2 separate regions of the Homo sapiens genome follow, and region 1 is linked to region 2. The links come from fine-mapping of genetic effects on gene expression. A gene starts in region 2. The other region holds a variant in brackets. All regions are shown on one strand. Distances are between the middles of the regions.

Evidence for each region.
Region 1: its variant is fine-mapped to the expression of SMCO4 in whole blood (INTERVAL, PIP above 0.99).

The regions. Positions count from the first base shown.
Region 1 is chr11:93,495,097-93,500,476 of GRCh38, forward strand. It overlaps SMCO4 (single-pass membrane protein with coiled-coil domains 4), which reads right to left. Exons shown (of 3, transcript NM_020179.3): 2 at 4,180-4,252. Among named protein-coding and RNA genes, the nearest start is that of SMCO4, 46 kb to the right of the region's middle. The variant T/C (reference allele first, on the strand shown) is at 3,040.
Region 2 is chr11:93,540,466-93,545,845 of GRCh38, forward strand. It overlaps SMCO4 (single-pass membrane protein with coiled-coil domains 4), which reads right to left and starts at 2,926. Exons shown (of 3, transcript NM_020179.3): 1 at 2,811-2,926. RefSeq lists silencers at 2,417-2,656, 2,787-2,836, 2,997-3,126.

The DNA.
Region 1 (5,380 bases), 45 kb before region 2:
CTTGGCAAAAAAGTAACAAGCAGTTGGTACTTGGCATCTCTTTCAAGACCCATCTCAAGGGTCACATGACTTTCCATCCCCCAGGGTGAGTGAGGGGCCATCTCTGTGTTCCCAGGACTCTGGGTAATAAACTCTATCACAACGCTCATCACACTATTAAAATCACCTTTGCTGGTATTCCCATTACAAACTTTGCTGTAACTCATCAGGCCACAGTGTACCAAACATCCAGCTGGAGTTTCAATATTACCATTAATTACCTTGGGGAAGGCCTGAGAATGGAGAGTATCATGCCTAAGATGAAATTCAGGTACGTGCTTTTCAGATGTGTGCACGGCAGCACACGCAGGACCTCCGACACACACAGGAGTAAAGCTCAAGACTAAGGAAAACAAATCGGCTTCAAGATAGGAAAAACATATTTAAAAAGGAAAGCTGTATGCTAATATTTAGCTTTCTTTTTCCCTTGTATAATAGAATGCCAGTCTTTTCTTGTACCAACCTAGAACCAAGTTTCATTCAAGATTTCATGAGCTAAAATGCTGTTGCACATTTTTATGTCAAAATATGTGGGTGGGGGATGGGGAGGTTGCTTGGGGAGTAGCAAGGAGTATTGCAATTTCAGCTGATTACTTATTGGCTATTAACTTATTAAGGTTACAAATGAAATAGTGGTCCACCTCTGTGTTCTAGGAGTTGTTATTCTGGTGTTTGGAGGAACAAATCACTCCTTGTTCCATTTCCCAGAACACAATATTCATTCTAAGTACACCTTTGAGAGCCTGAGTTATTTTATTGCGTTTGGAAAATTGAAGTCACTGCAATCTTCCTAGGAAGTCAAGAGTGAAGGGGAGAATGTCTCACAAGCTACAACAACATGGTGCCAACAATGCTGTGCCTCTGTAGCCAGGCCTGGGGCCCAGACAGTGCAGTCCACTCCATGGGCTGCACTGGGCTTATGTGTTTCATCAAGTGCAGGATGAGGTCACCAACAGGTTTCAAGCAAGGGAATTACATGATTTGACAAGAATTTTTAAAGATTGCTCTGGGTCCAAATTGATGAGAGGAATAGAAGAAAAGGGGAAGCAGGCAGGGCAGTCAGTTAAGAGGCTTTGGCAGTCACCTGGCAAAGGACGATGTTGGCTTGGACTTGGGGGGCGGATACAGGAAGGCCATGGATGAATTCAAGATGTACTTTAGGAGAGGCATCATTAGGATTTGGTGATTTGGGGGAAGAAAAAGATGAGTATTAACAAATGAAGTACCAGTTTCTGGCCTGACAAAGTGAGTTAACAACTACGTACCTTAATAAGATGGGGGAAGGGAGGAGGCCTAGAAAGGGACTATGGTAGAAGTAGACCAAGAGTTAAAATCTGGACACAGTAAGCTTGAGGTGCCCATGAGATACCAAGTTTGCTAACTGCCATAAAGGGTGTAAGAATGCTATAGAACACAGAGGAGTCCTGGGGCCAGCCTCAGAGGTGACCCCTGTCTATCCTCTCATGGTGTCGGAGGTCCTGCCACTGTGCCAATTCAAGGTGGGCACAACCACTGAGGAGCACCTGGAACCCCACTCAGCCAGGACACATGAGGGTAGCCTCTATGAGGATCCTCACTAATGCAGATCCAGCTTTGGGGTTAAGAAAACAATAACCTTAACAGTAAAATGGTGCTTGCATCATGCCACAACTAAAAGTAAAATGTGAAGCCTGTTTCCTTTGATTACAAGCATCACGATAGGCTTGCAGATTTCTCGATACTGATGCTTCAGATTCCCAGTAAAAGGGTGTTGGTATCTGGTCCTGGGCCCCAACGCTTACACTATGGGGAGTAACCTGTTTGGGGGATTCCAGGTTAGAATTTCCCACAGGAAAATGTTAATCTAAGAGAGTATCAGAGGAAGGTCTCTCAACATAAAAAGACCAGAGATGGTGGCCTGTTTTAGGAAAACAACAATTCACTGAAATCACATCCTGCTTTTAATAGCCCCCCTTCTAGAATAGAAGCTGGTTTTTTATTATGATGGTTCTATTTTCCCATTTCCCCATCAAAGGACAAATCAAAATGTCACCTGACAATCCACTTTCATTAAAAGTTGAGCAATTTTTTAAAAATCACAGTTAACTAAACAATTCCACATGGCAATAAAGCACTGTGCTCTGCTGCCTTGACTGATAGAAACCATTTGCAATGATTTAAAAGAGAAGGAAGCGAAAGAACATCATCAGATACAGCTGAATTAAGCTGATCAAACCTGTTAGTGTCTTCCAGTTTACTCAGAGTAAGACAATGCAGCATTCATGTAAGCTAATTAAATTTCTTGTATTTAAATTAGCCTTAACAAAAACAAAACTTTCAAGACTGACTGGAAGGTCTCAGGAGGAACATATCTGCTTTTTCAAGAAAGCTGCCTGGCTGAGGGTGGAGGGAGCACCAGGGTCAGACTCTCAACAGAAGGTCAAGACTCCCCTCCCTCAAAGGAACACTGAGGGTAGAGACGGTTCTGTGACACTGTTAGTTTGCCATGGCTTCCAAAGGGGGGTACCAAGATCAGATGGTTGGGGGGAACTGAACCCCATTCACATCAGTTCATGATGTTATGCAAGACATTGAACTTCTGAGCTTATTTCCCAACTTTGAAAATGAGAAGTTACCACTTGCCTCTGCCTGCTTCCCAGGACTGGTGGGAGAAGAAAATCTGCCGACGTGTGTCAAAGCACCTTGCAAAAGAGAAAGCACTCTACAAATGTGAGAGACAGTTGCTGGTTACTGTTAGGCAGAAAGGGCTGAGTCAAGTCTTCCAAGATGATGGTGACCAATTAAACTGATTTTCTTTTTTTTGAGAACTGTCAGTTGATTATTTATTTTGTATAAAAGTTACATTGAAAGAAGAGGTTGAAAAGTCAAGTATACTAGATTTGCACACACTTGCGAAGTCTCACAGGATTCAACCACTTGGATAATTTCTTAATTGATAACAGGATATACATATTAAAAGCCTCACACTGAAGCCCAATACACGTCAAACCCAGACAACAA[T/C]GTGCAGATGAATACGCAAAACAATCTCTGGAAATTTGTATCTCTGGGAACACCCACAATCTATGCTTTGTCCCTCTGGCTATGATGCATAAACTCATAAAATTAATAAGAAACTTTTATGGGATCTTTAGCAGTTACAGTAAACAGTTTGAGAAAAGGAACCTGCTGACTTATTCATTTAAAGGACAAAGGTTGGGGGCAGGGAGGTGGGTTAAGACACAAAGTCACTGAGTGAAGCAGTCGAGAGCATGGCACAGATGGAGAAGGTGATCCACCTGTGCAGCAGATAGGAGGGGCTACAACCACAGCGAGACCTAAAGCCCCCCACATGCAACCCCCACTCACACCCGCCACAAGCGGAGAAGGGGGCTGGGGAGCTGTGCTCCAGTGACCACTGGCATCCAGCTCTGCCTGTCACCTCCCTCCCCACTTCTGGATTCCTGCTCTTAACATGGGTCCAAAATCAAATGTGAAAAAAAAGTATCAGATACAAAAGCTTTGCTATTAGCTTCATTTCACCAATAGCCAAAGGACACCTGGCGAAGATCAGGAATTTCGGATGAATGCTCAAAGATCATAATGTATTTAAGAATGATTCCTAGTACAGGCCCAGTAAGGGAGGCGTGGTGGGGGTACAATGTGGGTCCACACAGGAGCAGGCCTCTTGTGGAGAGGCTCCTTCATGAGTCATTCGAGAAACATTTATGGAATACCGACTGTGTCCCAGGCACAACTCAGATGCACCCTTAAGCAGCTTACTGGGGAAAACACAAAAACAGGCAACGAGAATAAAGCGTGGAAGTAAGTACTATGATGGGGGGTGTGTCACAGACCTCTACCCGACTGGCCAAGAGAGGAAGGGTGAGACCATCAGGGGAAGGGCAAACGAGAACACAAACATCACAGGAAGGAGAAAGTGTCGTGGGGGTTCAACAGCAGGAGAAATCACCCGCAGCCTGGAGGAGATCCTCCACAAAGGACAAAGGTGGCATTTGATAAAGATCTTGAGGGATGAAGAGGAACTTGGCCAGGCAGAGAGAAGGGGTAAAATATTACACACAAAACTAGGCATATGAGAGAAATGACTGGGACAGTAACCTCTCCCCAGACAATGAGTTTCCCTTATAAGAGAATGTTTACCTTTTCTTCAACTTCAAGAATCGTTGATTAATTTCAGCAAACTGATTTCCAGTACAGGTGACTTGAGTTATTCCTGTTGAGAAATTAGAAGAAAGGGTATAATAGCTGCTGGGGAGGTATCCCTCCACAGACTCCTTTTTTGGAACCCCCTCAGCCCATGCTGAGAGGGCAGTCACACGGTTCCCCTCTCCCAACTGGCTTAGGGATAGACACTTGTCACCGCCCTGCTCCAGAAGGGCAGACAGACAGATACACTGGCACATGTGTGCATGTGCGTGATGGACAGGACCAAGCAGCCCCTGCATGGAGTTAGAGGGGCCTTCCCACTCCTGTGCCCAGCAGGCAGTCAAGCTTTGCTTCCTGTATTCCTGGGATTTCTACAACAAACTCGCTGCTAACTTAAGCCGCCATGAGACCATGGCTGTTCCCTGCAATCAAAAATCACTGATTTAAAAATGAAGGATACAGGTTTGGGATTAGAAAAGAAACAAACGCGGAAGGTGAAGGAACAGAGGCTTTTAAACCAAAGCCTTGGGAAAAATAAAAGATGAGAAAGTGACCCAGGCATCCGAACTACCGTCCCATAACATCAGAGAGGAAAGGAAGAGAGATGTGTGACAGCCACAGAGGACAGCCAACAAATTAACTCAAAACCTCAGTGGCATTAAATATTAAGTTGGAAGCCCAGATACTGGGGGAAAGGAGCTTTTAGTATGGGTATTACCCATAAAGCAAAATAAATAAGAGTTCCCTTGAAAGTAAAAAGGTGGGAGACTCCAAAAAGTGTCCATAACAAGCAAGACATAATTGAGTAATGGTACAATGCCTATCATTACTAAAATACGTAAAGATAAATCTTGGTTTACCGTGCTTTTTGTTTTGTTTCAAACAAACATTTCATTTCAAGGTATGGTGGGTCAGCAATCAGTGCTGAGTTCAGCTGGGCTTTTTCTTCTGGTCTTGCCTGGCTTATGTATGTGGCTATAGGCATCTGGTTGCTCCACTGGGCCAGATGGTCTCAGATGACTTTGTTCATGTTAGTGGTTGGTACTGGCTGCTGTGCTGCCTTCATATTCTCTTGCAGTAAATGTAAACAGTTGTTGTTTTTTTATTCCCAAAGAGCTTCACAGATGTATGCCCGACCTCTATCCTCGCCATATTTTTCCATTAGTTCCTGAGTTGGGCAATCACAAACTTACCT
Region 2 (5,380 bases):
GTGTTTATGTTAAAATGTGCTGGGTTAGGGAGCCCGTTAAGAGTTTACTTGTTGCTCTTCACATACAGTATCTCATTTAACTAGCACAACCCTGTAGGATAGCTGAGAATTCCTTTTCCACTGTTAACAAAATGGTACATGGATTGAAAGATCATCAGTAACTTATGCACGACAGCTGTACCAGAGTCGTGCCATCTCTTGGCTTTGTTTTCTCTCCTGTAAAATGATGCTCACTCCTACCTCACAATGCCTGCTCAATGGCAGGGGCTCAAATGGTGACGATTATGATTTTTATCAATACTTCTCAATTAAAGTAAAATTTATACACACACAAACACTAGATATTTTAAAGACTCAACCTAATTAATCAAGCCTTTACTTGTTGGAGAAGATATCATTTTTAACACTACCTCATCTGGTCTGAAAAGGAAAGTAGTTTAAAAAATATTTGGAAAAAATTGTTTAATAATAAAATACCACTACCTCAAACTCAGAGAGAACCACTAACTGCAGCTTCCAAAAAGCTGACAAAAAAGGATTACTGAAAATGATGTGGTCAAACCCAATATGGATTTTGAAAGCTACTAATGGACAAGAACAGGAACATTCAGTTATGACAAAATACACACACAAAAAAAATTCCTCTTCTTCCAGCACCATGGCTTGATCATTAATGTGTGGTGTGACCCTGGCCAAGTCACTTCAATGCTGTGATGGCCCTCAGCACCCAAAATGTCAAGGCCAGCTTATGACCAGGAAGCTCTAGTGAGAAGTTGCCCAGGGGGTCTAGGGGACAGGAGCGGGGTGGAGGGGACACAGATGATTGCCTGGAGCAATTTTTAATGTGCTGCCTCTAACTCACTGCTTGCCTTTTACTACACTCATCTGAAAAGAAATGAGAAGTCTGGGCATGCCAGAGGCAAGAGGAACCAGCTCACCACTTCTCAAGCCAGAATGGAAAAGATGGCAGAAGCATAGTTGTACAAGGACCCCAGCATCAGTCAGACAGAAGGAAACCTATAATATTATGCAATGAGAGACCCTGAGGATGTTCTTCAGACAAACCCCAGCAGGACCAATCCAACTCCAAGCTTGAGCGTCCACTCCAAGCTTGAAGATTAAACAATAAGAAAAAATTCGGGTCCACAGGTGAAATACACACTTTCTAAGCACAATGAGCAACTTTATAGTAGATAGCTGGACAACCAAGTACACTAACTGCAAGCATAAGAACAGTATTCATGTTGTAAATCGAGTACCAACTACTATTAGTTTTTTGTTGTTTTGCTTTTTGCAATATTTCTTCTCATATTTTATTTTAAATCTAAGCTAATTTCTTTATAAGAACAGGCTAAGGCTTATTTTCTGTGGCTGATCCAGCCTTACAAGAAAAAAGATTTCACTGTGTCCCTCAGAAACCTACTCCTGTCTACATCACACTGTCGAGCTCTCTCTTTATACCCCATGTGACAGATAAGAAAACAGAAGTCCAGAGAGAGCAAGTGACTCATCCAAGGTCAAACTTCTTGCTAACACATCTAGGACGAGAATAAGGGCTCAAGAAGCCCACTATGGGTCTCTTGCCGTATCACTGCTGCAAATGACCAGGCATACTGGTGTCTTGAATACAAAGTTTATTTGTAAAGGGGAAAAAAAAAAAGCCAACATGAGTCATCTGCATTGTCAACGGGCTCCACACAGGTTGTTCTAATAAAGCATCCAGCACCTCCAGAACCACTTGTTTCTGAAAGCACCAACCTACGCAGACACTAGCAGGCCATGTCTTCCACCCTTGCCACCCTCGAGGCTGTGAGCAGATGCGCTGTTGGGCTCTGGGGATCTAGAGGTGTCACTTAAAGAGCAAGGGAGCCTGGAGCTTGGCAGTACTGACTGGATGAGTGGATGGGTGGGTGTATGAGGACATGGGAGTGTTTTCTGACAGCTCCCGGAGATAGTTATGATATCATGCAGCCTAATCCCACTCATCTTGGAACACCCCAAACATCTCATCCGCTCAGCTGTCCCTCCTCAACTTCCTCAGGGCAAAAGCACTGCAGTCTGAGGTGAATCTGGCCGCTGGGGAGGGGCGGTAGTCGGCCCCAGCAGCAGAGGAAGCAACGCTCAGCTCCCTCCTCCACCCACCCCGTACAGGAACTCCCCACTGGGTCTTCAGATGCCAGAGGCGTACCCAGCTCGGAGCCTGCCCCGGGTCTCAGGGTCGGTCCCGAAAGAACGGGGGAGGAGGAAGGCTCTATCCCGCCCCCGCCTCACCTCTACTCCCCGACCCCCAGGCGCCGACCCTTCTCACCCGCAAGGTCCGCCGCCGGACTCTTGTCCACTCCCAGAGACCCTGAGCGCACCCCTTTCTCGGCGTCCTCAAAGGACCCGCGTTTCCCACCTTCCCATACGGGGCCCTCCCGGCCGCCCCGGCCCAAGCCCTTTGCACTGCGTCCCCCGGCCCCTGAGTCCGCCCCGCACCCGCACTTCCCGCCCGGCCCCGCGGGCTCGCGGTCCGCCCCAACTTTTCCCAGCCCCCGCCCCGCAGCAACCGGGATGCAGCGTCTCGAGCCGCGACGGGCAGGCGAGCTCGAGTCCCTCGGGCCCCCAACCCCGCCCGCACGAGTTGCGCTCGGGACCCGCCGGGCGCCCAGGCCTGGGTCAGCAGCACTGCGCGGAGGCGGAGCCGGCGTGGCGGGAACCGTACTGTCCCGGCGCCGCACCCCCGCCCGGTGCCCGGTGCCCCGTGCCCCGCGCCCGCCCGCCGGCTCGCCCGCCCCGCCGCCGCCGCCGCCGCGCCGCTCCCAGCCCACCTGCCCGCGGGCGCCGCCGCCGCCGCCGCCACCACTGCCGGGAATACGTGGCAGTGGCCGCCGCCGCTTGCGCTCCCCGCCTCGCCTCTCCTCTCGGCGCCCGCGCGGGCGACTCTGGCGCGCCAGACCGCAGCGCCAGGCGCCCTCTGCCGCCGGGAAGCCGAATCCTCCCGTCCTAACCCTAACTCGCTGGCTGCCCCCGCCCGGGCCTCGGCTCCCGCCCCCTCTTCCCCGTTCCCGGCTCAGACTGTCGCTTCCGAGCGACCTGGGTTCTCGCCCGGCCTGCTGCTGCCGCTGCCTCCAGGAAGTTCGCCCTGACCACCTCTGCAGGCTCAGCGCGCTTCCTCCGGCTCCCGCGCAGCGGGTGCTTAAGTCACCCCCTTGTTGATATATTTCCTGCTTCTTTGAACGCCTCGCCCGTGAGATAGCAGAATCGGAAAGGGGATAGTTGGAGGCAAACGCCATGTCTGTTGTGTTCACCATTCTCTCCTCCAGGGCAAGGTTAGCGCCCTGTCTGGAATACTGAAGTGCGCAATAAATACTTGTGAAGAGAGCAAACGAGTAGATGAATGAGTTGAGACTTTTACCGCTGTCTACCCAAGTAGGCTTTGAAACCTCAAGCGGACAGAGATCCTGACCTGGATTTGTTTTTTGTAACTTACACGTGCATATGTGTGCGCAGCTCAGCATAAATAAATGAGATTCACAATTCCCCACCTCGGACCAGCGCCAAATCCGCAAGAGGCCCACGGCTAAATGTTATTCAGGGCTTTTGGTCAAACACGTTTAGGTTTGAGATCTACCTCTTAAAAGCTGGGCAATCGCGGGAAAGCTCATCTCCCTGGCCCACAGTGAACACGTCTATAAATTAAGAATAATAAAACCTACTTCACAGAGTTGTGAGAATTAATTGAGATGGTGCACTATAAAGTTCTTTACGCAGCCCCGATGTGTGCGGTGGTATGTAAATGGTAGTTATTGTTGTATTACTACTGATGCAGTAGGTGATTTTAAAAACTATCTTCGAAATGTAAAATATTGACTACCTTTTCACCTTAAAACCTTTATATGTGTGGTATTGTCACCTGCTCAGCAAGGCCAGCCCGGGGAGCAAGGCCACTCCTGTAACCTCTTCCCCTCCACCGGTAAAAATATAACAAGTCTTGGGGTTTTTTTGTTCTGTTTTGAAGAATTGTGGAACCCACTCTTCTGCAGGTTTTCCACCTGGATTTCTGTGGCCAATCTCTTAATTAACAAGTTTTTATTTTAGGGATGTCAAAGACAGGGAGCCCTTTGAAAGCACCTGCAGTCTACTGGCTCTTCCTGTTTTCTTCCTGACCCTCTCTCAAACAACTTAAGGCTTTTTTTTTCATTTTTACAGGAAGTGTCCTTCCTGCTGCGTACAAAAGGCAGCAATGCAGTAGAGTGGGATCAGAGGGGATTGGGCTGCATACACCTTGGGCTTTCTGCACCTCAGTCCCCTCAACGGTAAACTGTGGAGAATAAGACCTTGTCACATTGGGAGATCATTCATGATCCGGTCTGTGAAGGAAATAAGGAAATACCTGAAACACAAAGATATTTAATAAAAGGCAACTATTGATCAGTTTATTTAGCATGTATTTAAGGAGCATCTTTTTAGTGTTCTATGCGCTGAAAGAATGAGGGGAACACGCGTGTGTGAGGTAAGTTTCCTACCTTCAAAGGAGTTTGAGCTGTAGCTCCACACTAGGGCAGAGGGATTGGGAGCATATGGGATGCAGCTAAATATGAAATTAGCAAGCCTCAAGGTTTAAATTGGGGCAGTGGTACTGCCGTGTGAATTGCTTTAATTCATTATCATTGTAAATGCCATTTTCCTCTAAATATTATGTACACAACTTCCCAAGGCCACTGCTAAAAATTAATGAATAATTTTATGAGGCAAGCAGAGCCACTGATGTAGGACTCAGTCCCTTAATAAGGTGACTCCACATGCTCCCTTATAGTAGTAATAACATAGATATTGTGTCTGTGAAAGTGCCATCCTTGGCTGGGCGTGGTGGCTTACCCCTGTAATCCCTGCACTTTGGGAGGCCGAGGTGGGTGGATCACCTGAGGTCAGGAGTTCGGGATCAACCTGGCCAACACGATGAACCCCGTCTCTACTGAAAATACAAAAACTAGCTGGGCGTGGTGGCAGGCACCTATAATCCCAGCTACTTGGGAGGCCTGAGGCAGGAGAATCACCTGAACCCAGAAGGCGGAGGTTGTAGTGAGCTGAGATCATGCCACTGCACTCCAGCCTGGGCAACAAGAGTGAAACTCTGTCTCAAAAAAAAAAAAAAAAAAAAAGAGAGAGAGAGAGAAAAGAAAAAGAAAGTGTCATCCTTTATAGGTTAGAGTTGTGTATCTTGCAATGCAAGTCTCAGAGGAAAAGTTTACACATTTTACACTAATGGCTTCTAATGAATCACCCCTACTGAGTTGTCCTTCTGTAGCTCCCTCCCACGTTGACCCTGGAGTTGGCCTTGTGACTTCCTTTAGCTACTGGGACATGAACAAATATGACACAAGCAGGGGCTTTCGAT